Linked DNA regions of Homo sapiens. The protein of the gene in region 1 interacts with the protein of each later gene in a biochemical or structural test. Each region holds a gene or a part of one and is shown in the gene's direction. Other genes may lie near its edges. The genes, in order: DLG1, ARHGEF26, FRMPD4 and KCNJ2.

Region 1 (7,023 bases):
TTCTACTTTTTTAGATTCCACGTATAAATGAAATACAGTATTTGCTTTTCTGTGTCTGGCTTATTTCATATAGCATAAGGTCCTCCACATTCACTCATGTTGGTTGTTGCAGATGATAGGATTTTCATTTTTATGGCCTAATAAAATATTCCATTGTTGTATATATACCATATGCATGCATACATACATACATATATATATATATTTGTTGTTGTTTGTTGTTGGGTTTTTTTGGGGGTTTTTTTTGTTGTTGTTTTTTTTTGAAATGGAGTCTGGCTCTGTCGCCCAGGCTGGAGTGCAGTGGCGCAATCTCGGCTCACTGCAACCTCCGCCTTCCGTGTTCACGCCATTCTCCTGCCTCAGCCTCCCGAGTAGCTGGGACTACAGGCAGCTGCCACCACGCCCAGCTAATTTTTTGTATTTTTAGTAGAGATGGGGTTTCACCATGTTAGCCAGGACGGTCTTGATCTCCTGACCTCGTGATCCACCCGACTCGGCCTCCCAAATTGCTGGGATTACAGGCGTGAGCCACCGTGCCCGGCCTGTTTTTGGTTTTGTTTGTTTGTTTTTGAGGCAGGGTTTTGTTCTTGCCCAGGCTGGAGTACAGTGTCATGATCATGGCTCACTGCAGCCTCAACCTCCTGGGCTCAAGCAATTCTCTCTCTTCAGCTTCCTTAGTAGCTGGGACTACAGGCGTGCAACACCACACCTGGCTAATTTTTTATTTTTGTAGAGACAGGGTCTCGCTATGTTGCCTAGGCTGGTCTCAAACTCCTAGGCTCAAGCAATCGTTCTTCCTCGGCCTCCCAGAGTGCTTGGATTATAGGTGCACTGCACCTGGCCTACAATATTCTCTTTATTCATTCATCTTTTTTGTTTTTGGAGATGGAGTTTTGCTCTTGCTGCCCAGGCTGGAGTGCAATGGCATGATCTCAGCTCACCACAACCTCCCGGGTTCAAGCGATTCTCCTGCCTCAGCCTCCTGAGTAGCTGGGATTACAGGCATGTGCCACCATGCCCAGCTAATTTTGTATTTTTAGTAGAGATGGGGTTTCCCCATGTTGGTCAGGCTAGTCGAACTCTTGACCTCAGGTGATCCGCCCGCCTTGGCCTCCCAAAGTGCCGGGACTACAGGCGTGAGCCATCGGGCCCGGCTCATTCATCTTTTGACAGACTCTTAGGTGATTTTCATATCTGGGCTATTGTTGATTATGTTGCAGTGAACATAGGAGTGCAGATTTCAACATACTGATTTATTTTCCTTTGGTTTTCTTTTTGTTGTTGTTGGCTTTTTGTTTTTTATTGTTTTGTTTTGAGACAGAGTCTCACTCTGTTGTCCAGGCTGGAATGCGGGTGTGATCTCAGCTTGCTGCAACCATCGCCTCCTGGGTTCTGTTGATTCTCCTGCCTTAGCCTCCCAAGTAGCAGGGACTAGAGGCACATGCCACCACACCCAGCTAATTTTTGTATTTTTAGTAGAGACAGGGTTACAGGGTTGGCCGTGCTGGTCTCAAACTCCTGACCTCAAGTGATCCGCCTGCTTCAGCCTCCCAGAGTGCTGGAATTACAGGTGTGAGCCACCACGCCTGGCCCAATTTCCTTTCCTTTGTATATATATCGAGTAGTGGGATTGCTAGATCATATAATAACTCAGTTTTTAATTTTTTGAGGTGGCTGGGCACAGTGGTTCATGCCTGTAATCCCAGCATTTTTGGAGGCCCAGGTGGGCAGGTCCCCTGAGGTCAGGAGTCCGAGACCAGCCTGACCAACATGGCGAAACCCCTTTTCTCTACTAAAAATACAAAATTAGCCGGGCGTGGTGGTGCATGCCTGTAATCCCAACTACTTGGAAGGTTGAGGCAGGAGAATTGCTTGAACCTGGGAAGCGGAGGTTGCAGTGAGCCAAGATCGCACAATTGCACTCCAGCCTGGGCAACAAGAGTGAAACTCTGTCTCAAAAATAATAATAGTAATAATAATTTCTTGAGGAATGTCCACACTATTTTCTGTGATGGCTTTACTCATTTACATTCCCACCAACAGTGTACAGGGTTCCCTTTTCTTCATACCATTGCCTACTTGTTATCTCTTATCTTTTTGATAACAGCCATCCACACAGGTCTAAGGTGATATTTCATTATGGTTTGCGTGTGTGTTTGTGACAGAGTCTTGCTCTGTCACCCAGGCTGGAGTACAGTGGCATGATCTCAGCTCACTGCAACCTCTGCCTCCTGGGTTCAAGCGATTCTCATGCCTCAGCCTCCTGAATAGCTGGGATTACAGGCACATGCCACCACACCCGGCTAATTTTTGTATTTTTAGTAGAGACAGGGTTTTGCCATGTTGGTCAGACTGGTCTCAAACTCCTGGCCTCAAGTGATCTGCCCGTCTCAGCCTCCCAAAGTGTTAGGATGGCAGGCGTGAGCCACTGCACCCAGCCTCATTATGGTTTTGGTTTCTGTTGCTCTGATTAATGAGGTTGAGCACTTTTACTGATACCTGCTGGCCATCTGTATGTCTTCTTTGGAAAAATGTCGATTCCAGTCCTTTGCCCATTTTTTAAATGGATTATTTGGTATTTTGCTAATGATTTTCTTATATATTTTGGATATTAACCCCTTACCAATTGCATGTTTGGAAATATTTTCTCCTCTTCCATAGGTTGCCTTTTCATTTTGTTGATTGTTCCTTTGCTGTGTAGATTTTTTATTTAATATCCCACTTGATGATTTTTTATTTTGCTGCCTGTGCTTTCCAAAAAATCATCCAAGACCAGTGTGAAGGCGCTTTTTTCCCTGTGTTTTCTTCTAGGAGTTTTATGGTTCTGGTTTTACATTTAAGTCTTTAGTCTATTTCAAGTTAATTTTGTATAAGATAAGGGTTTAGTTTCGTTCTCTTGCATGTGGATATCCAGATTTTCCAGCACCATTTATTTAAGACACTAGCCTTTCCCTATTGTGTAGTCTTGGCCCCTTTTTAATGATTAGTTGCCCTTTGATCCGTTTTGAAATACTATTTGTTTAAAAAAAAAAAAAGTAGGTAGCAACTCCCCAATATTCTTATTTTACTCGCCTTGTCCTTTAACTTCCTCCTCAAGTCTTTGGACATTTTTGTTGTTGTTACTTGTTTGTTTGAAATAATATCAGCCTAAATTTGACATTCACACTGAGTATCAGTAAGGGTCATGGTTTTTAAACCTTGTGCTTTCTTATTTTTTTCAAACTAATTTCAGACTTAAATAGAAGTTACAAGAATAGTACAGGGAGTTTCATGTACCCTTCACCCAAATTCCTCAAGTGTTAACATTTTACCACATTTATAGGTTTTTTTCTGATACACTTGAGAGTAAGTTTCAGGTAGATGTCCCTTTACTTCTAAATATTTCAGTGTGTATTTTCTAAAAAACAGGGATATTCCCTTATAGAATCATAGTTTTATTATCAAAATCAGGAAATTTAATAATTATATGTCTCATCTAACTATAGATCTTATTAGTATTTCACTATTCTTCTAATCTCTTTAGAGCAAAATGGAAAAAAATGGTTTTTCTGTTCTGGTGCAGGATCCAGCGGAGGCTCACGTGCTGTATTGGATTATCACATCCTTAATGTTCTTTAATCTGAAATCGTTCCCAAGTCTTGTTATTCATGACCCTGACTGACATTTTTTAAGAGTAAAAACACTAGGGGGGATTTTTTGTTGTTTTTTGTTTCGTTTTGTTTTTTGTTTCGTTTTGTTTTTTGTCTTTTGTTTTTTTTTGAGCCAGGGTCTCACTCTGTCACCCAGGCTGGAGTGCAATGGTGCGATCTCAGTTCACTGGAACCTCCACCTCCCAGGCTCAAGTGATCCTCCCACCTCAGCCTCCCAAGGAGCTGGGACTACAGGCTACAGCCAACATGCCCAGCTAATTTTTGTATTTTTTGTAGAGACAGGATTTCGCCATGTTGCCCAGGCTGGTCTCAAACTCATCCAATCCGCCCACCTTCACCTTGACCTCCCAAAGTGGTGGGACTACAGGCGTGAGCCACTGCACCCGGCCAAAGACCCATTCTTTTATAAAATGTCCCTCCCTCAATTTGGATTTATCTGATGTTTTCTCATAATTCGATTTAGGTTCTGCATTTGGGGCAGGAATAGCAATGAAGTAATGATGTGTCCTCTGTGTATCATGCAAGGAGGTTTACAAAGTCTACTTGTGCCGTTACTTATGATGCTAATTTTAATCACATGGTTAAGGTGTCTGCAGCCTTATGCTTTCCCAGTTTCCCTGGTTTACTAACCATTCCATTAATGAATTTACAAAGTAAGCAAAATGTATATTTCCCAAGTCAGTTCCTGACTGTTTTCTCCTAAAATAAATCCTTGCGTGCTGTTGTCAACCTAAACTATGAAATGCTCTAAAATAAATCCTTGCGTGCTGTTGTCAACCTAAACTATGAAATGCTCTGGGATTCTGTCCTGTGCTGTTGGGGTGCATCAAGATGCCAAACCCACGAACCAAGTATTTTGTCAAATGAACTGAGTCTTCAGGGACATTGAGGCATGTCTGCATTTAGCTCAAAAGGTAGAAGTCTCACAAAACTGATACTAGCGAATATCATGTTACTGAAAATTCTTGGTTATTCAGGCGTTCCTAGCTATGTATAAGTGCTTCCTACCTACATACAACGTCTTTCTTCTATGCACATCATCTCAGGTACCAAATAGACAGTATTATTTAAAATCCCCCTTTGACATTTTATGCTCAGTTTTTCAGACCATGGAAATCTACACCTATGATGCTCTTCCAAGATCACTGGGCATTTTTTTGTAGTTTAGTAAGTGACTTATTTAATTTGCAATTCTCAATTATTTCATTTATATGTAAACTTTTTTACGAGACACAAGGTTCCACTCTGTCACCCAGGCAAATGGTACAATCCAATGGTACGATCATAGCTCACTGCAGTTGTGAACTCCTGGGCTCAAGAGATCATCCTCCTGTCTCAGCCTCCCAAGTAGCCAGGATTACAGACACACACCACCATGCCCAGCTATTTTTTTTTTTTTTTAAATACACAGGGTCTCACTATGTTCCCCAGGCTGATCTCAAACTCCTAGCCTCAAGCAACCCTCCCACTTCAGCCTCCCAAAGTGCTAGGATTGCAGGCATGAGCCACCATGCCCAACCATAAACATTTTCTTTCTTTCTTAAAAAGTTAGTTACTCATGCTTAGTGCTGTCTAGCGATACTTTGTTTTTGTTTGTTTGTTTGCTTTATTAACTAATCCCTCACAGACCTCAGGGGCTTCAGCTATTCCCAAAGAATTAGTTGTTAGTAATTGTTACTCTTTTTTTCACACATTATTTCAGACAGCAAATAAACATTGATTGTTAAGTCTCTAACCACTAACAAGCTAGCTTAGGTATCTCTCAATTCACCTACACTACAGTACCTGACATGCTAGCTTAACTGAAAAAAGTAGTATCAATCTGTAATCAGCTCTTTTCCCCCAAGATCCTACCCCAAAAAAAAAAAAAATTATCCTTACATCATCCTGTCTATGGGATTGTACCCAGTTTCCTTTTTTCTACATATGTTTATGGAGAAATCAGGAAAGTTAAGAAAATAATTTGTTTTAAAATAATAAAGCTAATATATGCTCAGATGGTAAAAGAACAAAAGAAAAGATCTCCAAGTCTTACTTTTTGATCCATTTTTAAGATAAAAATTTTATACTATATAAATAGGAAAATTAATGAAGTGAGCCTTTTTTCCTAAGTGAACAGTGTGTAAATGGTGATTCTTCCTGGATGAGTAACTTTTTCAAAGATACTAGCTTCTACTATTTCATCAATAATTGTAATGGCAAAAATAGACAATTAATGGAGATTTCTGATTTTGTTTCTATCATTACAGCTATTGTACAGGGGGATACGCTGGAAGACATTTACAACCAAGTGAAACAGATCATAGAAGAACAATCTGGTTCTTACATCTGGGTTCCGGCAAAAGAAAAGCTATGAAAACTCATGTTTCTCTGTTTCTCTTTTCCACAATTCCATTTTCTTTGGCATCTCTTTGCCCTTTCCTCTGGAGTCTTTCTTGAGTACTGATTTCATGTTGAATTGTATCCCACACATCATGGTCTGCAGCTTCTTTTTCACATGTAGTGTCTCCTTCAAGTTACATCGTGTGTATTATTTAATGTCACTATTGGTTAGTGGCCATTTTTCAGAACTGAAGATGGAATGGCCTGACCAGCTATTAAGAACGTGGGGAGACGCAGAAATTGTGGTAAAATTCCTTAATGTTTAAGGGAAAGTAACTTTAAGAGATTTTTGGAAAAGCTTTATATACATTCTTTTCAAATTTCAGTACAAATGAAAAAGTGGTTTTAATCAGTGATTTAGTAGACTTTGAGCAACTGTGCACGCTTCAGTTTAATAGCATGGTTTGGCCAGTGTATTACTCTCAAGTCCTTTTCTCAATCAACTTCTATCATCAAAGCAATTGTTTCATTATAGATAAATAAGGACATTTTTTAATTTAAAAATTCATGTCTGAGTTGACTTTCATAAGGGATTTCATTTTTTCCTCAACATTCTTAAAGCCTTTTAGTATTTGACGGTTCTTTTTTCCCAGGACATTTGCTAGGAATAACAACGTTTCAATGTTTTTAATCTACTTGAGCAACACTATCGTGTCTTACAAAAGTTGTTCATATGTAAATGATCATCACATTTCGTGAATTGAGGCCATGTTCAGGTGCTAAGGAAGTTCGCCTTTTACACAGAAGATTGAGAAAATTTCCTAGATATAAATACAGATAAATCAGACGTTACAGTGGTGACGTAGTAACCATCATGGCAATGGAAAGGAGTCCAATTCATAGCCTAAAACTTCAAATGTATTCTTAGGAGTCAGATTTTACTGAATATTTTACCCACAATAGCTGCCTATTTTGTTATAATAAAATATATATAAATATATATATAAAACTTTCTTTAAACTGTAACTATGGGAATTATTTTCTTTACATA
Region 2 (7,023 bases), about 43 Mb from region 1:
AAGCAATAACTTGATTTTTTTTTTTTTTTTTTTGGTTTTGTCTTGTCTTGAACTCCTGGCCTCAAGTGATCTTCCTGCCTCAGCCTCCCAAAGTGCTGAGATTATAGGCGTGAGCCACAATGCTCATCCTCAAGGAGGTGTTAATATGATAGATTTAAACTTAGATAAAATTTTTATAGATTTTAAAAATATTTTTTAGTTGGTACTGTGTACTGTTGAATTTTCAAACCCCGTGTAATAACATTACATGAGGCTAATCTGTTATCTGTTAGAGTGTATGAAAGAAGTGTTAATTTTTTTTTCCCTTTGGTTTTTCAGGTTCTTTATAGAGTTGGAAGCAAGACATCAGAATAATATCTTCATAGATGACATAAGTGACATTGTGGAAAAACACACAGCATCCACATTTGACCCATATGTGAAATACTGCACAAATGAAGTCTACCAACAACGAACACTACAAAAATTGTTGTAAGCAATGTCGAATGCTACAGTTTTAATCATCTAACCTAGTTTTAATTAGGCTACATTGACTGAAATTAATTGATCTTTTGAATTATATTTAGAAATGCCTCCTGATAGGCTATTTCCCAGAGGAGAAATGTTTAAGAGCATTACTTTTAGGGTGAGGGTGTTTAAGTAGAAAAATCTAGTGTGTAGAGAATTTTCTCTCTTACGAAATTATAGCTTGTTATTGATGTCCTTGTTTAGTGTTTCGTTGTTTTTAATTGTTGCAGGAAACAGAGGTGGTCCTCACTCTAAACCCGCAGTTTTCTAAGCTTTTTACTGGCAATTAAGTGGTTTTCCTGAGGCTTAGAGGGGATTCTTGAGTTGATTGAGCTAAAAGCTAAGATTCAGAGTTTTCTCTACTATTCTGATCTCCCTCCATTCAATTGACAACGATAATAAATTGTTCATAAAAATTGCTGATTATTCCCCCCACTTGGGTAGTTAGAGTTGAAGAGAGGAGGGAAGTTCTGAAGGAAAGCAGTAGAAAAAAGTAATGTTCTTAAAGATTTCAGTTATGCAGCAAAAGAGTTAAGCATTAGATTTCCTGCCACATCTTTTCTTTTTGTCCTTTTTAGGTTACTGAGAGTTTTGATGTGATGCATATGCCATCTGTGTCCTTAAAAGAGTCACCAATTGTTCAGTAATGCCTATATGTATTTTAAAGAGTCCTGTTTATCACAAGTAGCTGTTTTACAGCACAGTTGTGCACTGCTGTAAACCCAGTTTGGGAGCTTAATGGCTGTTATCGTTCTCACCCCCTCCTGTGAGTTGTGGCATTTATGACCACGGCATGGAGCTTCGGTCAACTTCTGTGCAATATGTGAGACCCCTATGGAGGAGTAGGGGTTGAGGATGACTAACTTATGGCTGCTTGGAGAAATAGTCAAAGCCTCTAAGCTGATGAGAAGGGCTGATGATGGCCCCCTTTTTCCTCCACATCTTCATGACATTTTCATATAGCCAGGGTGGAAAACACACAGCTGCTAACCCCAATGAGATTTTTAGTATAAAGCAGGGTTTGTTCGCACAATTGACATTTTGGACTGGATAAGTCTTTGTGGTGGGCTGTCCTATGCATTTTAAGATGCTTAAGGGCATCCCTGGCTTCCATCTGCTAGATGCCAAAAATCTCCCCAGACATTGCAGAAGGTCCCCTGAGGGTAAAACCACACCCATCACTTCCTCACTCCACCACGCCCTGGTGGGAACCGCTGCTATAGGAACAGAGGTTCTCTGTAACTGTTAGAGAATGCAAGTTCATGTCTGAAAACAAAGCCTTGAATTAGAGATAAATTTGGGTTTCATTTTGTTTTGCAGGATTTAAAAAATGTCACTAGGTACTGCTATACATCATGTGACTCTTAAAGGTTTTATCTAAATTAGCTTAATGATAACATCATCAGCACTTTCACGTGGCAATTAGTAGTGTTTTCAGGGGATTTGTTGCAGTTGATGTGATTTTTTTTTTTTTTTTTTTTTGAGATGGAGTCTCACTCTGTCACCCAGGCTGGAGTGCAGTGGCGCAATCTTGGGTCACTGCAACTTCTGCATCCCAGGTTCAAGCGATTCTCCTGCCTCAGCCTCCCGTGTAGCTGGGACTACAAGTGCATGCCACCACACCCAGTTAATTTTTTGTATTTTTAGTAGAGACTGGGTTTCACCGTATTAGCCAGGATGGTCTTGATCTCCTGACCTCGTGATCCACCTGTCTCTGCCTCCCAAAGTGCTGGGATTACACGCGTAAGCCACTGCGCCCAGCCCGCAGTTTATGTGAATTTAAGGTTAGAACAGTGGCTTTCAATTCTAGCTGCATGTTAGAAATGCCTTGGGGCCTGAAAATGAGCAAATGTACACTGTCCAGAGTCCATCCCAGACTATTTAATCAGAACCTTTGGAAGGTGAGGGAGGGGACTGGGACCTGAGTTATTTAAATATACAACTAATTTAGAGGTTTTTGTTTTTTTTTTTTAACTTTCTAAAAATCTTGTCAAAGCTATCAGTAAAAGGAAACTTAAAACTTCTCAATTAGAGAAAATGGAAATGAATTGTTTCTGTATAATTTCTTTTCATTTGCTATTCTGGCATTCTCCCCCTCCCTGCTTTTAGTAGCAGCCTTGAACAAGATTATTTAATTTTCAAAATAACATTTTTTTTAAAAAAAATGACTGCTATTGTCACTATCCTGCTTCCTTCTCCCTTCATGGGAGTACAATATCCATCTACCTCCTACCCTCCTTGCCTTGGAAAGTGGCAGTGGAACTCTACAGAGCTCCTCATGGGATGAAGTGAGGTAAGAGAGTGAGAAATGGGGGGACAAGAGTGTCAGATTTAACATTAGAAAACTTGGGTTTGAGGCCAGGCACAGTGGCTCACGCCTGTAATCCCACCACTTTGGGAGGCCGAGGCAGGTGGATTACTTGAGGCCAGGAGTTCGAGACTACCCTGGCCAACATGAAACCTTTTCTCTACTAAAGATACAAAAATTAGCTGGGCGTCATGGCACACACCTGTAATCCCAGTTACTTGTGAGGCTGAGGCATAGAATTGCTTGAACCTGGGAGGCAGAGGCTGCAGTGAGCCGAGATTGTGCCATTGCACTCCAGCCTAGGTGATAGAGCAAGACTCCATCTCAAAACAAACAAACAAACAAACAAACCTGGGTTTGACTTCTGTCTTTGGCAGTTACTAAGTCATATTTACTTGGTGAGGTAGGGACCTTTCTGCATTCCATTTTCTTACTGGAATCCCTATCTGGCCTTCCTTAAAAGTTACGTAGGTGGTTCCACATGAAAGAATGTATGTCACAGTATCTCGCTAAGTTTCATTAAAATGTTATAGCAGCATTAATACTTTTCTTGCATTAACAGGAGAAAAAGAGGAATATTTCGACTGATGTGATGAAAAGGTTTTCTGTCTCAGAAAGAGGATCTTTGTGGCCTAAAGCCTCTGAAGTCCAGTCTAACTGTTAATTTCTTATGCCATTGTCTAGGGCTGGAGAAGTGGCTTAAAACATATTATTTATGATCTTATTAATGATATATGTTTATAGATGATCGGATATAAAAGACCTAGTCTGTATACTGATTTATGACCCATATATTCACCATTATGATACCACAGCTTCTTCATTTGCTTACCTTCCACTTGTATAAATTTCTAGCTCCTACATGTTTTGCCTTATTGTTAATACTGTTATGTGAAATCCACATCTTATTATATTCAGCCTTGAATATAAAAGGCAGACAAGCCATTCGTATTTGCCAGTGTAATTATGTGCTTATGATATTTTCATACAGTTTAAAATAGTTGATGCTATATGGATTTATCACAGTATTTTGTAATACATTTTTACTTGCTGCTTAATTTGAGGAGGAAATATTTTGAAGTTTCTCTTTTCTTTGTTTTCCCTCAGAGCTACCAATCCATCCTTTAAGGAAGTATTGTCAAGGATTGAGTCCCATGAAGACTGTAGGAACTTACCCATGATCTCTTTTCTCATTCTCCCCATGCAGAGGGTGACCCGCCTTCCCCTGCTGATGGATGTAAGACATGACGGTGGCTTTTTCCTCTGTGGATAGCTGTGCTTCTCTAAATCTGATTTAGAAAATTATTATTATTCCACTTAAATTGATGCATATTTAAAGGTCTAAAAATCCCCCAATTAAGTGAGAAGGTGTTGTTTGTTCAGAAAGTCTCACCTGTATCTGATATCTCTGGAAATTATCTTTCATTTAGGCTTCTATGGTCATTCTGAAGAAATTGGATCTCATCACCCACTTACTCAGCATTTTTTGAAATAGGAAGAGTTGTGGCTTCTTTATGTCAGGAGGCCTGGATTCCAATTCTAGCTAAGCCATTAGGCATGTGACCTTGAGCAACTCAGTCTCTTTGGGCCTAAGATTCCTCAGACTGATCACTGAGATCCCTTCATCTATAATGTTCCAAGGTGCCCTGGGCCTTCCATTTCATACAGGAATGAGAGTCTCTTCAGCATGACAAGGCATAGTACTGCCTGTATTATGCATTGTGCGAAGTGAGTGAGGAAAGCCCAGCTTCCTTCTTGTGTTAGGCAGCATTCATGAGGAAAGCAAGTGTTTTTGACTTTGAATCACGGCAAGACATGACTGGGAAAAGTGAGTAGAGTCTGCCTAGTAGTACGTGCAGCTGGAAAGACAGGTAGGCTATGGGCAGGAGAGCCTGCCACTGGCTGCACTGGAGCTGCTGGGGCAGCAAAAGAGAAAAGTGGGGTGGCTCGACACAGGTGCCATTCTAGCAGTGGATCACAGAGTGTCTTTTTGATCTAATTAGAAAATATTTTGTTATGATTTTCCTACTTTAAAATTGGATCATAATGTTGATATAAGGTCAACTTTTTACATACCTGATTTTGACTAATCAAAACAAAGTAAAATATATATTAAAAATTATGATTAAGGTTACAAAGTAAATTTCACATTCTGTATCCCATTGTAAATTCTAAAATACATTCTTTAAAAATGCTGAAATTTTGAAATGTGTAAAAGCATGGAATCATGAGCATTTAGCTGACTGCTGCAGTTTTGGAGACGTTTTGTCAGGTATTTCAGGATTCATAGCACCTTGTGCTCCTCAAGTTTACTTCGATCTACTGCCTTTACACCTTCTCCACCCATCACCTGTAATTCAGGAACTTCCCCCCTGTGTACATATTGGGAAGCTTGCAGTTTTGAACATTTCACTTTCTGATTTTTTTTTGAGATCAGTATTTATCATGTTTAAAGATAGAATGTGGCTAAGTTATCAGAATCGAATTTTTGCTTAAGAAGGAAACTTTGGTCCATATAAGGAAGTATTATTTCAAACATGACTATTTTTTTAAGCAAGAAGTGAATGCCTTGTAAATACAACATTTCTTGTAATATTAGACTTTTGAATTTTCAGGGTTTTCTTCTTCTGAAAATGCATTTTATTCCTCTTTGAGAATTGAAATAAAAGAACAAAAATAAATAAAATGCATTTTAAACATGTTTTCCAGATTTTATATATGCTGTGATGGCCAAGCCTTTTATATCCTCTTTAAATTTGAGAAAATTACTTGTATGGAATGGGACTCTAAAATCTAACACATTATGTTATACAGTGTTGGAGATTCATGCCATGATTGCTCAGTAGGCTTTAAACTTTTTTTAAGCCACAGACCCCCCCTTGAGATTCTGAGTAAAGCTATAGCTTTTCTTCCCAGAGAATATGTGTATGCACAAAATTTTACATAAAATATCAATATATGGAATCCAGCTAAGGATGCCTGCTCTCAGGGACATAAACCAGTATTTTTCATGCTGCTTTCATACCCATTAGTGGGCCATAAAACTGATTTTTGAATTATGAGCATATGTACGTTGCTCATAAAGTGGTTAAATATTGTTTCATAAAATCCTGGTTCATTTATGTGTGCATGTGTGCTGGTTGCAGTGTAAAAGTATTTCTTACAGTGAGTCATAGTCAAAAAATATAAGAACCTCCACAGATGGTGCACTCTGTGTTTCTCACATAGCAGATAGTTAAAAATCTTGATGCCTGACTTTCAGATGGCTTGGCTTGGTGCTTCTGTACATTTAAGGGACCAGTGACTTGCTAGTAGCCAACTACTTTCTACCTCTGCCTGATGCCTGTTGCTCTAATCTGTTTCTCATGTGTGGAAATCTGGCCATTTAGGCAGAATGTAAATGTATTTAAAATAGTGTCTCTTCAATTTTACCTCATTTGGAAATTCAGTTAAGCTTGTTCATTAAAATAAACACTTTCAGTAATTAAAGTGGTTCCCTGGGCTTTGAATGTGTGTGTATAGCTTTAAAGTTATATGTAATTAAATTTACCGTGAATTGACCCTGTTTGACCTGATTTTCCTATCACAAATGAAATTTCTCAGTATAAATATATCAACAGAAAACCTAGCAGGCTTTTTTTCCTTTGCTGGTTTTTTTGGGTTTTTTTTTGACTGTTTTTTCTTTGAGATGCTGTCACCCAGGAGTGCAATGGTGCGATCTCGGCTCGCTGCAACCTCCACCTCCCAGGCTCAAGTGACCCTCCCACCTTAGCCTCCTGAGTAGCTGGGACCACAGGTGCACACCACCATGCCTGGCTAATTTTCTTTTAGTATTTTTGTAGAGATGGGGTTTTTCCATATTGCCCTGGCTCCTGGACTCAAGTATTCTGCCTGCCTTGGCTTTCCAAAGTGCTGGGATTACAGACATGAGCCACTGTGCCTGGCTGTTCTTTTTATTCAAAATGTATCATCTATAAATATAATTGCCTCTAATAATAATGATTATAATGGTGATAATTAAAGTAACTCTTATTTATTGAGGGCATACCCTATGCCAGGCACTAATAAAGAACTTTACATAAATTATCATTAACACTTCTAACAACCTTGTGATGTAGCTGGCATCACCCCAGTTTTACAGATGAGGAAAGAGAGGCTTATAAAGATAGAGTTAGTGACTTGCTCAAGATTTGATAACTAGTAAGGGC
Region 3 (7,835 bases), on another chromosome or scaffold:
TACATCTAACCCATCAACTGTTCCTATTCAAAACATATCCTGAGCCTGGCTACTTTTCACCACCTCCTTGTCATGTCCTCTCTGAGCTGCTGCCAGCTCTTGCCTGGATTCTTGCAACAGGCTCCTAAATCAGTAGTTTCCCTGCCCTCACACTCACTTCCCTCAAGAGTGGTCATTCAAAACATAAGTCAGATTTGGCCACTTCCATGCTAAAAATCCTCACATGGCTTCCCGTCTCATACCAGCCAGACAGCTGACACTGGCCTACTGTGCCCCATGTGATCTCACCCTTCTTGCCCCTGCAAATTCGCTCACTCTCACTTCATTTAACGCGTTACTCTTCAGTCACAGTGGCTGCCTTCGGATTCTTCAAACATACAATCATCGTTCCTGCCTCAAGGACTCCATCCTTGTTTTATCCTTGCCGTTCCGTCTGCATGGAATGCTCTTCCATATGAATTTTGTGTGGCAGCCTCCTTCTTGTTCTTCATATCTCAGTTTAAATGTCACCTCCTTATAGAAGTCTTCCTGAACCACTGAATAACAAATAGCCACCTAGCCACTCCCTTTCCATCAGAAGAATTTTAATTCTCTGCACATTGCTATCTGCTATTTTCTTGTTCACTACAATTTCTGATTTTGTTGTTTATCATCTACCTCCTCTTCATAAGTTCTATGAGAACAGAAACTTGCCTTGTTGCCTAGTCTATTTCCCAGTGCCTACAGTGGTGCCTGGTACATGGGAGACACTCCATAAATATTTGCTGATTGAATGGATACCTTGCTGTTATTTATTTACTTCTGTTTTCAGGACTGAGACCAGATGGTCGAGATGCTTCAGTCCAGCTGAGAAATGCTTGGGGCTCTCTCTATTGTAACTTGCAGCGAAAGAACCCTCAGCTGCCAACCTATATGGAACATCTGGCCCAATAGCAGATTCCTAACACCAGCTTTAGATAAGGCCTTAAGAATGATGAAGCTCCTCACACTTCCCCCTGAGAATCCCCCGGGGCATAAAAAATGCTACAGCCTAGGGCTTTAGTAACTGCCCAGGCAACAAAGTGTTTGATTTTTAGGCAAAAGTGCCTACCTCTGATTAATCCAAGCGAATGTTGGGCCTCCTAAATAGTCATCTTACAGGCTGAAACTTTTCCTACCAGTACTGCCAAGGCTGCAGACAGCTGTGGAAATCCTTCTAGAGCTAATATTCATGTGCCTCAACTCATATGTAGCCAACTGTAAACTGGTGCCAACTTCAAGTGCTCATTTTGTGTAAGGTAAAGATGTATTATTTCCATTTTACAGCTGAGGAAACTGAGTCTCAGAGAAGTTATAGGACTTGCTCTGGATCTGGTGACCCTGAGTCTTTTATTCATGAGTACTTTCAACAGTGTTTGAAAGTGTGTCTGGTTTTCAGAAATGACCAAATGTCACTTGAACCTAAGTAAAGCAAATTAAGTAGATTCTCAAGGTTGGATAATACAGTTTCCAACTAGTAAATCCCTACAAGATCCAGAAGGGGCCTTAGAGATCATCCAGGTTAATAAGAAAACTTCAGAAAACCACATATGTACTCAGGATCCCACTTTTTTGGCTTTTATTTGTTTTAGGCAGATCTAGTTCATGCTAGACAAACCTATCCTAACCTCTGCAGCACACACCTGGCACAGAGAGGGGACAGAGCTGAGAGACCAACTACTCCAATCTCTGCCCTTCTGCCAAGATGGCTTAAAGATATAAACACTCTGTGTTAGCATGTTTCAAGGGAGCAGCTTTTTCCATTGTTGTATTAATGAGAAACAAAGGAGGAGGGGTGGAATCTCTTTGCTTTAGAAAACAATATCAATCCATTAGAAAACATACTAGATAATTACTATATGAGAGGTGTGTAAAGACCTGTAGAAGTCAGTCATTTCCCTTGGTAGCTATTATGCTGTGGAGAGATGGCATCTGCATCATTCATAACCGTAGCGCACAAATTGGCACAGGGAGAAGGCCAACAGCAAGCTGTTCCAGGTAGACCAGATGTCTCCAAGGGAGGCTGTCTCTCTAGAAGTAAACACAATGTCTATTTCCTGTCACTTTCACTGTTGAATAATTAGATATTTGGTATCTGGAATAATTATTGATAAATAGGGTAATCCTTTTAAAAAGAGCATCCCAACTGTTCTCTTCTCAGAAGGAAGCACTTTTTCAAAACACATTCTCCAAAGGCACTGTTTTATCCCCTTTTCCCAATCACGAGCTGGTCTTGTGCTGCCAGATGTTGACTCAGAGATGAGGGAACGTGTCGGTGGCCACTCTTTTGGGGGAAAGGTAGAAAAGGTGAAGGGGGAAAATAACTGGAGAATGTAAGAAGGCCTTTGTTGCCATCATTAACAGTCAGTCCAAAGGAGGTTGAAGGATGCTGGGGAAGTGGATGGGTGGGGAAAGAGACAGATGTAAGCCACGAAGTCATACACAGATCAGTACTCACTGGGGATGCTTGGCCAGCTTTGGTTTGGCTGTGAATCCAATGGGCATATGATTTGTTCGTTCAACAAATATTTCTTAAGTTCTTTCTACATCTGGGGAAGTGGTCTAGGCATTTGAGATCCATCAGTGAAAAACAAAAGCAAAACAAAACAAAGATCCCAGCCCTTGTGGAGCTCCAGTGGGAGATTCAGACCAAAAAAAAAAAAAAGAAATCCTAAAGATAAAAATAAATTATATAGTGTGCTAGTGGGTGATAAATGCTATGGAAACAAGAAAAAAGAATAAAACAGTTAATAGGGACTCGGAGTCCAGGGTGTGAGAACCTTTTGCAATTTTAAATTGGCTTTCTAGAGGGGGCATTTTGGAAGTGGTATTGGTGCATACATTTGACAGGGTGGAGAAGCCGGCCATGCAGATATCCCAGGAAAGAGCATTCCAGGCTGAGGGAACAACCATTGCAAAGAGCCTAAGGTGGGAAGATTACCTGTAGAGTTTGAAGGATAGCAAGAAGTCCAGAATTGCTGGAGCCCAGTGAGTGTATGTGTGTGAGAGAGGAGGGGCTCGGGGTAGGGGATGAGGAGGGACAGAGAAAAACGGGAGAGGGAAGTGGGCAGTAATAGTTGAGGTAAGAAAGATCAAAGGATACGGGATCTAGGGTCCTGTTGGCCCTTGCAGGAGCGCAACTTTAGCTTGACGGACAATGGGGAGCTTTTACATATTTTAGATCAGACAAGTAGCCTTATGTGATCTACGTTAAAACACACACACACACACACACACACACACACACACATACACACACACAAAACATCTTTTTGTCTGGTATGTTGAGAATAGATTATGGCATAAAAATAAAAGATTTCTAAATATATTGCCTTATATGAAAAGGTTGCGATGAGACTCCAATGCAAAAAAAAGCTTTAAAAATTATAAAGCACAGTGCAGACCCAAACTATAATTATTTTACAAACAATAGAGTTCAAAAGCCAAGGTCCCTCTCGCCCCTTCCGATCCTTGAGTAGTAACTGCGTTCATGCAATTAAACTAGCCTGTTTAATAGAAGCTGCAGGAAAACTGATAACTATGTATTCAAAAACATGTAATTTTATGCCTGAGTTTTAAGTCATTTAGATTTTGCAGATTGCTATTTATTTTATGTTCAGTTTTTGAAATAAATGCTTAAAAAAAACGCTTTAGTACTAGGCTTGAATACTGAAGACTTTAAATATAACAACAGACCAGGAGAGGAGCAGAAGTGTGGGAACTTTAAACCTATTTCTTTCTTAATCCCCTCGGAGAGCTAGACTGGAACACTGGCTGGATCTTCCAACATTTCTGGGGGTGCTCTCTGTTCTTTGCGGTGGCCCTGCCGCCAGGTGAACGCTGCCGGTGGGAGAGCACACACTTAGTGCGGCCAGCTGACCTTCACAGTCTGGGGGGAAATTTTAAAGGATTGTGGAGAAGAGGCCTTGAGACTTCAAGAGGAAGAAGAAAAAGGGGCCCAATGAAGCCTGAGCCTCCCAGGAGGTAGAACTGAGTTAATGAACAGGGCTGATTATCCAAGGTAATTATGTAAAAGAGAAGGCTAGGAGGAGTTCTAGATGGCTGCAACTTGGAGTTTACTCTGCCTAAGGTGAGTGTTTATGTTTCTGTGTTTTTGCTTCTCCGGCAAGGTTTTGTTTTGTTTTGTTTTTTTCTTCCCTGTTCCCTTCACCCAAGGCTCAGTGTGCAAAAGCAGCTCGCTCTGCGTGGCAGACCCCATTCTAATCCTTCTCTTTCCTTAGATTCTGAGCCCGGTTAGAATTAGCCTCCGCATCACGGGCTCCTGGGACCCTCCGCTCTATGCTCCTCGAGGAGGGAGCAGCTGTGTTCATCCCCCTACCCGCAAATGCCTCCGGTTCTTATTTGGCAGACACTCCCGCGGTGCTGCTGTCCAAAGACACACCTTCCCAGCCAGCCCAGTGGTCACGTCTCGCCCCAGCGATTCGGGAGAAGCAGTGGGAACTCTGAGCTCCCCGAATCGAGCCCGCTGCGCCTGGCATCTCCCTTCCCTTCCCCTTGACAAACGACCCAACCTCAATCATCCCTGCTCCTTCCGAACGCTAGTTTTGTTTACGGAGCAAACCGAGGCTTTGAGCAACCTGCGGTTGCACGGCTCTCCTTCGGCTTGGGGAGGGAGGGGTAGCGTTCACAGTTCTCCAGTGTGCCATAGACTGTTAGACCAGATCCTTCAGATCTAGAGGCACACGCAGTGGGTGACAGGAGAGTGCCCCCTCCCCCCGGGCGGGTGGGGGTGGGGAGAGGAGCAGGGACTCGGCTTGGAGAAGGAGGCAGGGAGGCAGCTGCAGTGCTGCGAGGGGTGCGTGCGCGTGTGCCCAGCTCGCCTGCCGTCTCCCGGCTCCGTCTGCGCTCCTCGGTGCGTGGGGCACGAGGGTCCGAGGGCCGGGAAGCCAGAGCAGCGCCTCTCGCCCAGGCCTCGCTTTCTCTGGACGCCCGGCAGTCCCCGGGGCTAGAGCGCACGGGGCGGGGCGCGAGACCCGGGCCGCGCTCCCCGCCCCCGCCTCTTGCGCCCTGCCTGGCTCCCTCTCCATTGAGTTTTCCTGCCTCGGGTGCCTATCAATGGTCCTGCTCGGGGATGCACACGCAGCTCGCGGCCGGAGGGGGGTAGCAGCCGCCGCCTCCAGGTGCAGGTTCTCTCCGGCCGCCGCCGCCACCCGCTGTCGCCGCGACTCGAGCCCCGGGCGCACTGAGGTCTTGGCCATGGGGCTGCGGAGGCTGCTGTTGCTGGCGTGAGAAGGGGCGACGGAGTTGTCGCGCTCGGGGGTCCCCAGCTGCCTGCATGGATGTCTTCAGCTTTGTGAAGATTGCAAAGCTTTCGAGGTAGGGGCTGCGCGGGTTCCGTTTGCACCCAGGGCCGCTGCCGCGGGCAACTTGGTGCCTTATTTTTCGGGAGGCTGGGTAGAGGCAAAAGCTGGAAAGCGCGACGGGGCTTAAGACAAACGAAGTGGCCGGGGGCTTCCACGTTCAACTTATTTCTCACTGGCTGCTGAGGCTTGTGTAGCGGCGGGTGTAGACCACACACAGAGAGGTACATACATGCCCTCACCAACACACCGACATTCACGACAGTTTGTTTTCCCTAAGGAAAAGCCCCAGCGGTGTTTGGGGTCCCATGTATAATTCAGGGCTAAGAGAAGATGGTTGTAATTGCTACTGCTAGGGAAACCCAGAAGTGCTTGGAGCTTGGGTGCCTGCCTTCCAAGCTGCAAAGACCAAAAGTGCCGCCTTCCCCCAACTCCTAAATTACACCTCCACACCTCCACAAAGTCAGCTCCTAGATTGACCAGGTGCTCCCAACGGTAACCTAGATGGCGAAGTCATGTAGATAGAAGAGAAAGACTTTCAGCCTTTTTTTTTTTGGGGGGGGGGTAACTATATTCTTAAGCCTCGAAAGATTTAGAAATTTTCTTCTAAGTGGCCATGTTGTTAAAACAGTAGCTAAAACTAAATCATCGATTCAGACATTTTTGGGTAGTACTGATAAAAGAGGAACATTTCCACGCTTGGGCCGCCTAGGTGTTGCCTGGCCAGAGCACTCCTCCAGGTCTTCTGCCCTGCTTATGCTTCCAAAGTCTTCGTTTGAGCCACAGAGTAAGGTTTGTGCTGCTTGCTATGTGGCATTAATTGGGAAGAGCCCAATAGGAGTGGTCTTAGAAAACCATGCCCAACCTTCTCTGCCCCTGGAGCTCTTTATAGCAGCTACCACCAGGACGTAGGAGGTAGACAGTTGGGTTTTTCCAGGATGTAGCTTAAAAACTTACTTGCAATATGGACAGAATAATCCCAGGTTTTCCTTCAGTCCTGAGTGTCAGAGTGAGATGTGTTGATTGCATCAGGCAGGGATGAGCAGCTTCCAATAGTCAGAGGTAGAAACGTATGTTGACTTTGCTTTATTAAATTACATTAGACCACTTCAGAAAGGTTCTGTTTGGATGTTGCCATTCTCTCCGACATCTACAGGTCTTTGTTCTGCCTGCCCATCTCCACCTTCCCTTTCTACTAACATGGGTCAGTCTTCATGCCACTAGCAGATTTCCCCAGGCAGAAAGGCCCAGTGCAGCTTACTCTAAGTAGACTGGAGATACGCAGTTGATGGGTAAATACCTGTGTCTTAGAGCAGCTCAGGAAGAGGTGTTGTCCTGCAGATCAGAAGACTGATGTGTTAAGCAGTGGATGATTGTGGTGTGGCCAATTGTTTGCTTTCAAGCTGATCTCATAGAGGGCCATTGCTTCACACCACTATTCTATTAACTTCCTGCATGCTTCTGCCTAGGGCTAGTTTCTAAACAGCTGTCAAATATTGAACCATGGTTGGGAAGCAGCTGTGTGCAAGTTTAGAGGCTAAGTGGTACCCTCCGTGTGATGGACAGAGATACTGCTAAAGGGAAAGGGAAGTTCAACCAATAGTATAGTTCAAAGTAACCAGGATACTTTTTGGTGGCCTCAGATGCTAAAAACAGTTTAACAAAACATCTAGAGCCTCGATTTAGTCCTTAAACTTAGGAACTTTGGAGAGGACAGTGTCATGTGTCAGTGAAAAGATGTTTCATATTCTTTTTACTAAATTCTAGGATGCCTACATGATATTCACAAATCTGAGTTTTTGCAAAACTCAAGCAAGGCTGTGGGGAGAGTGGTATCTTATTTTAAAGAGAGTTTAAAATTTAGTAAATGAGTGTGAGTTTCACTTTCTATCCTTAATGTGATCCAGTAGAGTGTTTATTCTAAAGACAGAAGGTGCAAATGTTCTGAGCTGATGTGCCGATTAAGAAATCTTCCATCCATAGAATTCTTCTTTTTCTTTAGTGTGAGCCCGAGGATGGTCCCCGTGCTGAGATAGAAGTACCTTTAGAGGGTCATCAGCATGTAAAAACACATGTTTGCAGTTGCTTGTTTCTGCCTTGGGAGGAAGAAAGTCTTGTATGTGTTTTAAACACTGTTACAGAAAGCAAGTTCTTTTCTCAAAGGTGAAGTATGAAAGTGCTTATACTGCAGGATTTTCCTGATTTCAGAATGGATAATCTTCCTAAAGGATTTAGCTTTGATCAGCATGGTTACTTCAGTGCTTAAAATTCTCTTGGTTTAGAGGCAAACACATGTAGTTACCCTGGGTACCTGGCCTTACCTTTGGTTCCTACAAACTTGAGCTTCTAAATGTTAATTCAGAAGGCATATCTTGGAAGTGATATTTGCTTAGTGTCCTATCTGTGAGTAAAGACAGTGTAATTACAGAGAATTCCAAGAGAATATTATTCGACACTGGAATAAATAAACTGCATATTTTGACTTTTTAGAGTGTC
Region 4 (7,675 bases), on another chromosome or scaffold:
GAACTGCCATCCGTGGTTATAGAGGGTAAACCGAGGCTGTAAACTCATTACCTTTGGGAGACCTAATGTATCCCAGAAAACACAGATGAAATGATCATTGTAATCACTGAATCAAGAAACATAGTAATGTAGGGTCTGGCCCTAAAATGAATATGGTATTTTCAGAGTGTAATTGTCTCACTCATGTGAGATAAATGAAGTCTTCCAGAGCATGACAGAATAGGTAATTTACTAAATAATAACATGGAGGCTCTGGAAGTGTGAGCTTCTTAAAGAACAGCCCCACTTATTGATTTTGGTTTTAACATATTTGATGGAAAATAAAGGTCATAATAATAAACGGATAAAGTAAGCACTGAAATATTTTCTCAATACATCAGTACATGATTTTATGTGTACATATAAACATATGGATAGTTGCAAACACGCGGGTATCTCACTTACTCAGAAGTTTTCCTCAGCTATTTATAACAGCAAATACAAAGACTAAGCCATTTAAATGCTCTGAGAAGCAAAATAGATGCCATAAATCCAAATCCTGAAGCTTTTTTACCCAAAAAGGAGGTTGACCAAGCGAAGGTAACTCCAAATTCAGCATCTGCTCATACTATTTCAAAAATGCATCTTTAGATATGTTAAATCATATTTGCTTGTACATTACTTTAGCAACCTTGGTTACATAATTTATCAGCCCAGCACAGATTAGAATCAACAAATTAGGCAGAGCATGGTGACAGTCTGACAGATTCAAGGCACATTATCAGAAGCAAAAATGAGAACGGAAGGCTCACATTGATGGAGAAGGGAAAACAAGCAGAAGGGCTTAAATAAGCTTAGTCTAGGGTCATTTAATGCAGGAGAAAAGGCTCTACTGTAACCTGATAGGCCTACTGTATTGCAGGTAAAAAATGAAATAGCTTATGTTTATTATAATCATATTGAGTAATCATCAAAAGTTATACTAAAACATACTGTTCCTTTCATTCATTTCCATGTAACTGACATTTATTCTTAGAAACAACTTATAATTCATATGCTTGATTACCTGTATATAGAAAGGTCTGGGGCATAGCAGGCATTTAAGAAATTAACTGAATGAGGAGCCACTCCTATCTTCTGACGTGTTCTCAGCATCCTTAATACCACTACACATAGTAATATGTCATATGTATTAAATCTTCCATTACAAAGTCTTACCCTGCTTCATTCCATTCTTCAAAATCTAAGATTATCGTTTTATTTGTTGCTTGATCCATTTTAGTGCATAATCATAAGCTGCCTTATATTGTTGTTTAATCATTTAAATGTTTCACTTCTGCCTTGTTCATCTTCTCAGTTAGACATTTTGAACTCTTAAGAAGAGGAATTACTCCCGCTAGGACACTTCTGTCTTTCATCTCACCTAGCATATAGCCAAAGTACAACGTAGTTATTTCAACAAATACGTTCACTGAATTTAAAAATATGAAGATTAAATATTATCAATGCAGTAAGTGAAACTAAAGGCCAAAACTGTTTTCCAATAAATAAGATTACATACAGTGCCTTAAAATACCACAGTAAGTGGCTTGTTCTCATAGCAGCAGATTGCAAACTCAGCCTGTCTACATTTCCGGGCAATCTGACAATGATTTATTTACTATTTATTGCTAATGATGATTACTTTGAAGATTAGAAAGTGGTTTTTAATATCCAGTGGATACAAATGCCAGGAGCGTTTGATGTTTTACCATTGTGAATTTGAACTGCATATACATGGTTAATGTAAGTCTGAAAGTATGTCTAATTGTTGGGGATCTTTATATAAATGCAAAGGAAAGATCTGTGCTTCTAGTGAAACAATCACCTTCTGCGTCACACAGCTATTCACAATCTGACTGCAGATCCAGATTGTGACTAATATTTGGCTCTAATATTATAGGTGGTTACCGTGGAGAGAATCAGTAAGAGCATAATTGTCATTTCCTTGGAAAAATTTAATCCACAGATGGATCCCAACACCCAATTGCATTCGTGTCCAAGACTAATGGGGATTTTTGCTAAATAAGGCCTGATTCAGCCAAAAAAGATAGACTCTGAATACAGAAATCTGCATCACGCATCACTTCAAAAGATGTATTAAATCAAACACTGAAAGCATTGGCACACAGAATTTTCCTAATAGGGACATGATGAAAAGTCATTTATTAATTAAAATGCATTTATATTTTCTTTTTTTAAAATGAAGCAATGGGGGTATTCTACGCTACCATACATTTACAAAATTTCATTTGCAAAATTTCATCCTTCATACTTCCTTATTTAGCTAATTAAGGTAATGATTCTACTTAGATTGGAAAGTTCTAATTAAAATCATTAATTTTTCCCGAACCTTCTCCTTCAAGATCTAAGCTTTGCTGCACATCCTTCAGTCTTTGGGAGGAGAGAATGTTGGGGGATGTGCTGCTGATAATTGATGAGAGAGAGCAGGATACATTTATTATGACCTTCCTCCCGCTGCCCAGCTAAATTTATACAGCCAACCATAATCTAATAACTCTGTGTTCCTTTCTTTAAAGATTTTCCTATCATATGAAACTATTTCGGCCTGTGGTGTATTCTTTCTAATTAGAGTAGAATACTAAAGCAAAACCATTTCAATCCAAGTTGCATAAAAATGCCATCCCTTTCCGAGTGACTGGTTTTCAAAGCGAGCTCATTACCTGGAAAAACAACAACAACAAAAGTGTTGCCTCTCTGAATTCACGTGGTTTGGAAAATTCTTAGCCATCTACAGATGCACCAACTGAATCATAATAAAGAAGAGAAAATCTATAAATGATTAATTTCCTTTTTCTATTTAGGCTTAACATGTTTTAAGGGATAATTAAACTTTTGGCCTGTTTCTTAGAAGTCCAGGAGGAAGCATATTTCAGAAGAAGCTTATTGAACTGAGCGGTGAACTCATTCATTATCCTTTGGTTAATACAGAGTGAACTTGTCTACCCTCAGGTTCATTTAGCTTTAGGCTACAGCCTAGATTCTTAGACATCCGTCTATTTTACAGTATTAATTCAAGCTGTTTATAAATAACACATGACTAAATAGATGTTAAAGAAGACCTCCCTTGGGGCAGGCATTATTCCCACGTGCATGGCAACAGAGTTCGTAACAGGGCTTGGTGAACAGTATAATCTCAACACATTAACTGGGACCACATCGCCATTTGGCTATCAGAGCAGCCACACCGAGTGCATCATCTCTTGCACACCCTTTTAATTTAAGTACCTTGCTCAGTGCTAAGAAAAAAGGCACACTTGTTAAGGCAGGAGTAAGTGCGGATCTGCGAAACCTAAGCAAGCATATTTCACCAGCACCTCCTAGGGGCCACGTGTGGATATGAGGATGGGAGGTGGGGACTCGCACAGAACCTTTCCTTGAATTGTCAGTTTCACCTCTCCTACACACAAAAATCCACCCCGACTGCGCCGTCCACAATACCAGCTAGTTTGCTGAATTAGTTCAGCGACTCAAGGAGGCCTTACGAGGTTTAAATAAACTGCACAAAAGACACATTTGATCGCTCGAGAAAATAAACATTTAAAAAACTCAGTGGAAAGAAAGACTCCTAAAATATATCCTGTCCTTTAGGAGCAAAGCTTCGTTAGGACACCGAAGTACTCAGAAATAATAGGCACTTACTCTTCGGTTTACACACACACACACACACACACACACGGATTAGTTTATAAAGTTCCAGGATCCAGACCCGGTTAACACTGAAGTTGCTTTTTAGGGGTCTGCGCGCTCTCGCCTGGCTGCTGGGAAGGAGGGCTGGGAGGCGCTGAAGCGAGGGCAGATCTGAGTGTCTGTAGGAGTTGCTATTCCAAAAAAAATCATTACTCTCTAATTGTTCTGATTTTAGATCAGCAAAGCGTGCCGGGCGGTGGTGGAGAGACTGAGGGCGGACAAGGCGAGAGGGAACGAGCCGTCCACCCTTCGGAGAAGCCTAGGCGCCTTGTAAGTAATTCGCGAACAGTCGGGAGAACAAACAGCCAAGCGGCGCTGCAGTGGCCGCACTTGCGCGCGTCTCAATCCTGGGGGCTCTGCGCGCCCGCCCCAGTCCCTCGCCCCATTGACTCAGTGGCTTCTCCGGGCGCTGCAGCCTCCGCGGGGGGCTTCGAAGGGCCGAGGGGCTCCGGCAGAGAGGGAGTGGAGAGGGAGACGCGCCGGGACCGACGAACAATCCTGCCCCTGCGGCAAAGGTCTCTACCCGGCGCTGGCACCTCGCAGGCCCCTCGAGGAGCACGCAGGGCAAGCGGCCCAAGAGCGGGGGAACCGGGAAGTGTGTGGGGCTCCAGACGGAGTAGGAAGCTTTGCCCAAGGCCAGGCTGCAATCAGGCAGCCGCAACAGCCGGGCGCGGAGCTTCCCACCTGCTGCTGTCCCAGCTGGGCCGCAACTTCCTCCTCCCCGGCCCGGGCCCGACTCCCCGGCCGGGCTCCGAGGGTGGAGGGGGACGAGGCGGCGGCAGGTTCCCTCCGCTGGCAACGCCTCGCAGCATCCTCCCCTCCCCGCCGCGGTTCCCGGGGCCGGCCGCGCGGCCAGGCGCGCTGCGATTGGCCGGCAGCGGCCGGGGGCGGGGCCAGGAGAGCCGGTGTCGCACGGACCGCCTCAAAAGAGCCCAGGATATTGCAGAGCGCACTGGAGCCCTGGCCAGCGCGCAGCCTTCCCGGCGCCGGCGGGCTGGGTCTTGGGAATTCTGGTTTGCTTTGGCTCACTCGCTTTTTACAAACCACTGGATCTTACATGCCTCTGTACCCCCCACTTCCACTCCATGTCCCCATGCTCCTGCGCCAGCAACAGGTAAGGGCTGCTGTGTTTTCTTCCTTTTCGCTCGCTGCCGGTGTGTCCTGGGGAATGGACTCTGGCCGCCGTCCCCTACCCTACCCTGCCCCGCTGCTCCAGAGGTGCCCAGCTGTCACACTGCTGTAGCGCTCACCCACACTCCGGAGTCCCAGATCATGCCTATATAGTTTGTGTGCGCACCAGAACATCCCCAGAGCTAAAAATACTGAGACATGCTTGGAACAGTTGAGCAATAGAAACAGATTTCTCTGCAGCATCTGTTTGTGCTCATAACTTCCAATGCACCAGCTGTAGCGAGATACTGGGTTTGGAGGCAAGGGCGAGAGCGTCTGTGTTCGGTTCTCACTCTAAGTGGGGAAAAAAAGAAAGAAAACGTGGTTGCGGGTTTGGGGGTGCGTCTTGAGCCCTGGTCTTAAACCTTGGCAAAGCTTGGGACTCAGCACTATTCTTGATCCTTGGCTTTTTTTTTTTTTCGTCATTGCTTCAAGTATAGCTGTGAGTTTCAAACAGAGTGAGTGTCTCAAAGTTGCCTTCCTGAAAGAAGAGCGGGAGCCCGAGTTGGATTTGAGCCTGAGGATCGCAAAACTTTCACATTACATATCACTCTCCCCTAACCAATTTGTTATTTTCAGTAATAATGGTATTAATACCTGGCTTGAAGACAGTGTGGTTTTAGGAAAGCAAAATAGTCAAAACGACTTGATTCTGCAAAAAGATTGCATCATAGCGTGGATTCATCATGACAATTGGAAAAAAAATAGGGATAGGGAATGGGCAGTTTAATGTCTGTGTCTGGGTAAGGATATCATAGGATGATCACTAGGATAAAAGGCTGTGAATTCCGACGATTTTCATAAATTCAGATTTTACCTGTTAGGAAATAAGGTGTTATTTGAAAACCTCGGATATGCAAAGAAACCATATTGCGTTTTATCATTTGTTTTCTTTTCACATTAATAATCAATAGGCTGCCAGATTTCCTCTCGCCAACCAATGTTGTGTGTCTGCTGTACATTATCTGTACACTTGTTAGCGTTTTCCTGCTCACTTCCAAATGTTTCATTTCTATTTGCCATTATCTGGAAAAATCCTGGTGCTCAGAAGGGGTAAGAGATGTTAATTGAAGCATGGTGGAAAGGGTGAGGATAAGGTCAAGGCCATTTTACTTAGCTTCCTCCTCTCTCATATTTTAATGACACTTTATTTTTTAATGTTCTTGGTCTCCATAAGAAATATTTGATCTAAACTCATGTGAATTTTGCTTTTAAAAAAAATAAAAGAACACAGTCTTTCTACATCCTTTGGATTCCTGAGTTGTAGAATCTCTGGTTAGCTGTAGCGTCCTTGTATGACTTTTGCGTAGCCTGAAAGATTGAAAACAGCTACCTGCACAGATTAAGTGTTTCAGATTTTTTTAAGTGTATATTTTTATTTACCAAACATGTCTGTTTTTCAGCGTATGCAAATGCTGAGCAGTGCTACAAGCCAAGTGTCGTTGAGTATAAATGTTAGACAGGGGGCTCACACGTAGATAGATGGGTATCCCCCTCCCCTCCCCACTTCCCCCTCCTCCTCCCTCATGTTTATTGAGCTTCTAAGAGGCTGCTTTCCTAGCAGTTGTGCTCACATAGCAACATGTGCCCAGAGCACACTCAGGCTGTTCTATATGGCGTCAGCTGGGGAATAGCTGCTCTAAACACTCATTAGCAGACCTCTCTCTCAGCCCAGTACGTTTTCTTTTGCTATCTTTATTTCCTATCCTTAGAAACTTTCTTATTTATTGCACACCATGACCATATTACAGGACACATTTACTCTCATTTGATTTTTTTTTTTAGTTATTTATAAGCCATATTGGAAGTATTACCTATATAGTCAAAGCAATTTAGATCCCCCATTTGTACCATGTGATCTCCTTGACCTTACATTTATCCATAGCTCTTTCTCCTTTAACATCTACCTAAGTTTAAAACGCTGAACTATTTTTTTCCATTGCTTATGCTTAATTTTGGCTCAGCCTATAAATAGTCTTAACATGAACAGCACCACATGTAACCTCTCAATTTCCCAAAAATACTTTCTACATCATGGGTTATGGCCTGGATAAAAATGATTATTTGTGTCCATGAAATTTACATCTAGACCCTTAAATATTTTGGCTGGAAGGGAGATTTACACATTGTTCATCAAATCAAATTTCAATTCTCTGGATTTGTATCACTTAGTGTTCTCATCTACTCCTCATTGATTGCATCTCAAACATTATTTTGAATATATGCTTGAAATAAAGTTGCATGTAAGCCCTGTTTTTTTAATGATAGCTTTTCTCAGCTGCTCACGAATTGGTAATTGCTAGTGAGAGGACCGGGCAAGGAAGTTTTCTGCTTGCTTAAAGTCGCTCAGGCATGTGGGCAGGTTAACAGTAAAAGCAATTTTTACCATGAAATATTAAGACCGTTACCCCATCAAACCTTGACAGGTTCTAGACTTTAGCTATGTAATCAGCTCCACAAAAAGTCTGCATACATATATGTGTGTGCACCTGCATACACACATAAATCTGTTTGGGGGCATATCTATTTAAAGTGGCAAAAGTTTTCTTTTTGCCAAAAAAAAAAAAAAAAAAAAAAAAAGCCCAAAACTCCTCTTTTTCTCTTTCCAGGAAGAAATGGTAAAATTTCTAAATGATGCTCCACATGTGGAACAAATTCTGTTATTAGCAATGGAAATAAGACAATAATAGTCTCTCAATACAGGCTACTTTCAAGATTCTAAATGTGGAAAGCTATTCATAGGAAGCTGGTATTGTGTGATTTGTGGAATTCAAAC

Evidence for each region.
Region 2: the proteins of DLG1 (region 1) and ARHGEF26 interact in a test that uses a peptide from one of them, tested with the Homo sapiens proteins (2 studies listed by BioGRID and IntAct, with this or other methods).
Region 3: the proteins of DLG1 (region 1) and FRMPD4 interact in a test that uses a peptide from one of them, tested with the Homo sapiens proteins (2 studies listed by IntAct, with this or other methods).
Region 4: the proteins of DLG1 (region 1) and KCNJ2 form a complex in vitro, tested with the Homo sapiens proteins (2 studies listed by BioGRID and IntAct, with this or other methods).

Annotation. Positions count from the first base shown.
Region 1 is NC_000003.12:197,043,606-197,050,628, reverse strand, and holds part of DLG1 (disks large homolog 1), read left to right. Parts: intron 1-5,899; coding exon 5,900-6,006; 3' UTR 6,007-7,023. UniProt on the Homo sapiens protein: Essential multidomain scaffolding protein required for normal development. Recruits channels, receptors and signaling molecules to discrete plasma membrane domains in polarized cells.
Region 2 is NC_000003.12:154,187,367-154,194,389, forward strand, and holds part of ARHGEF26 (rho guanine nucleotide exchange factor 26), read left to right. Parts: intron 1-318; coding exon 319-471; intron 472-3,922; coding exon 3,923-4,052; intron 4,053-7,023. UniProt on the Homo sapiens protein: Activates RhoG GTPase by promoting the exchange of GDP by GTP. Required for the formation of membrane ruffles during macropinocytosis. Required for the formation of cup-like structures during trans-endothelial migration of leukocytes.
Region 3 is NC_000023.11:12,133,658-12,141,492, forward strand, and holds the start of FRMPD4 (FERM and PDZ domain-containing protein 4), read left to right. Parts: upstream 1-4,815; 5' UTR 4,816-5,314; coding exon 5,315-5,355; intron 5,356-7,835. UniProt on the Homo sapiens protein: Positive regulator of dendritic spine morphogenesis and density. Required for the maintenance of excitatory synaptic transmission. Binds phosphatidylinositol 4,5-bisphosphate.
Region 4 is NC_000017.11:70,164,859-70,172,533, forward strand, and holds the start of KCNJ2 (inward rectifier potassium channel 2), read left to right. Parts: upstream 1-4,673; 5' UTR 4,674-4,843; intron 4,844-7,675.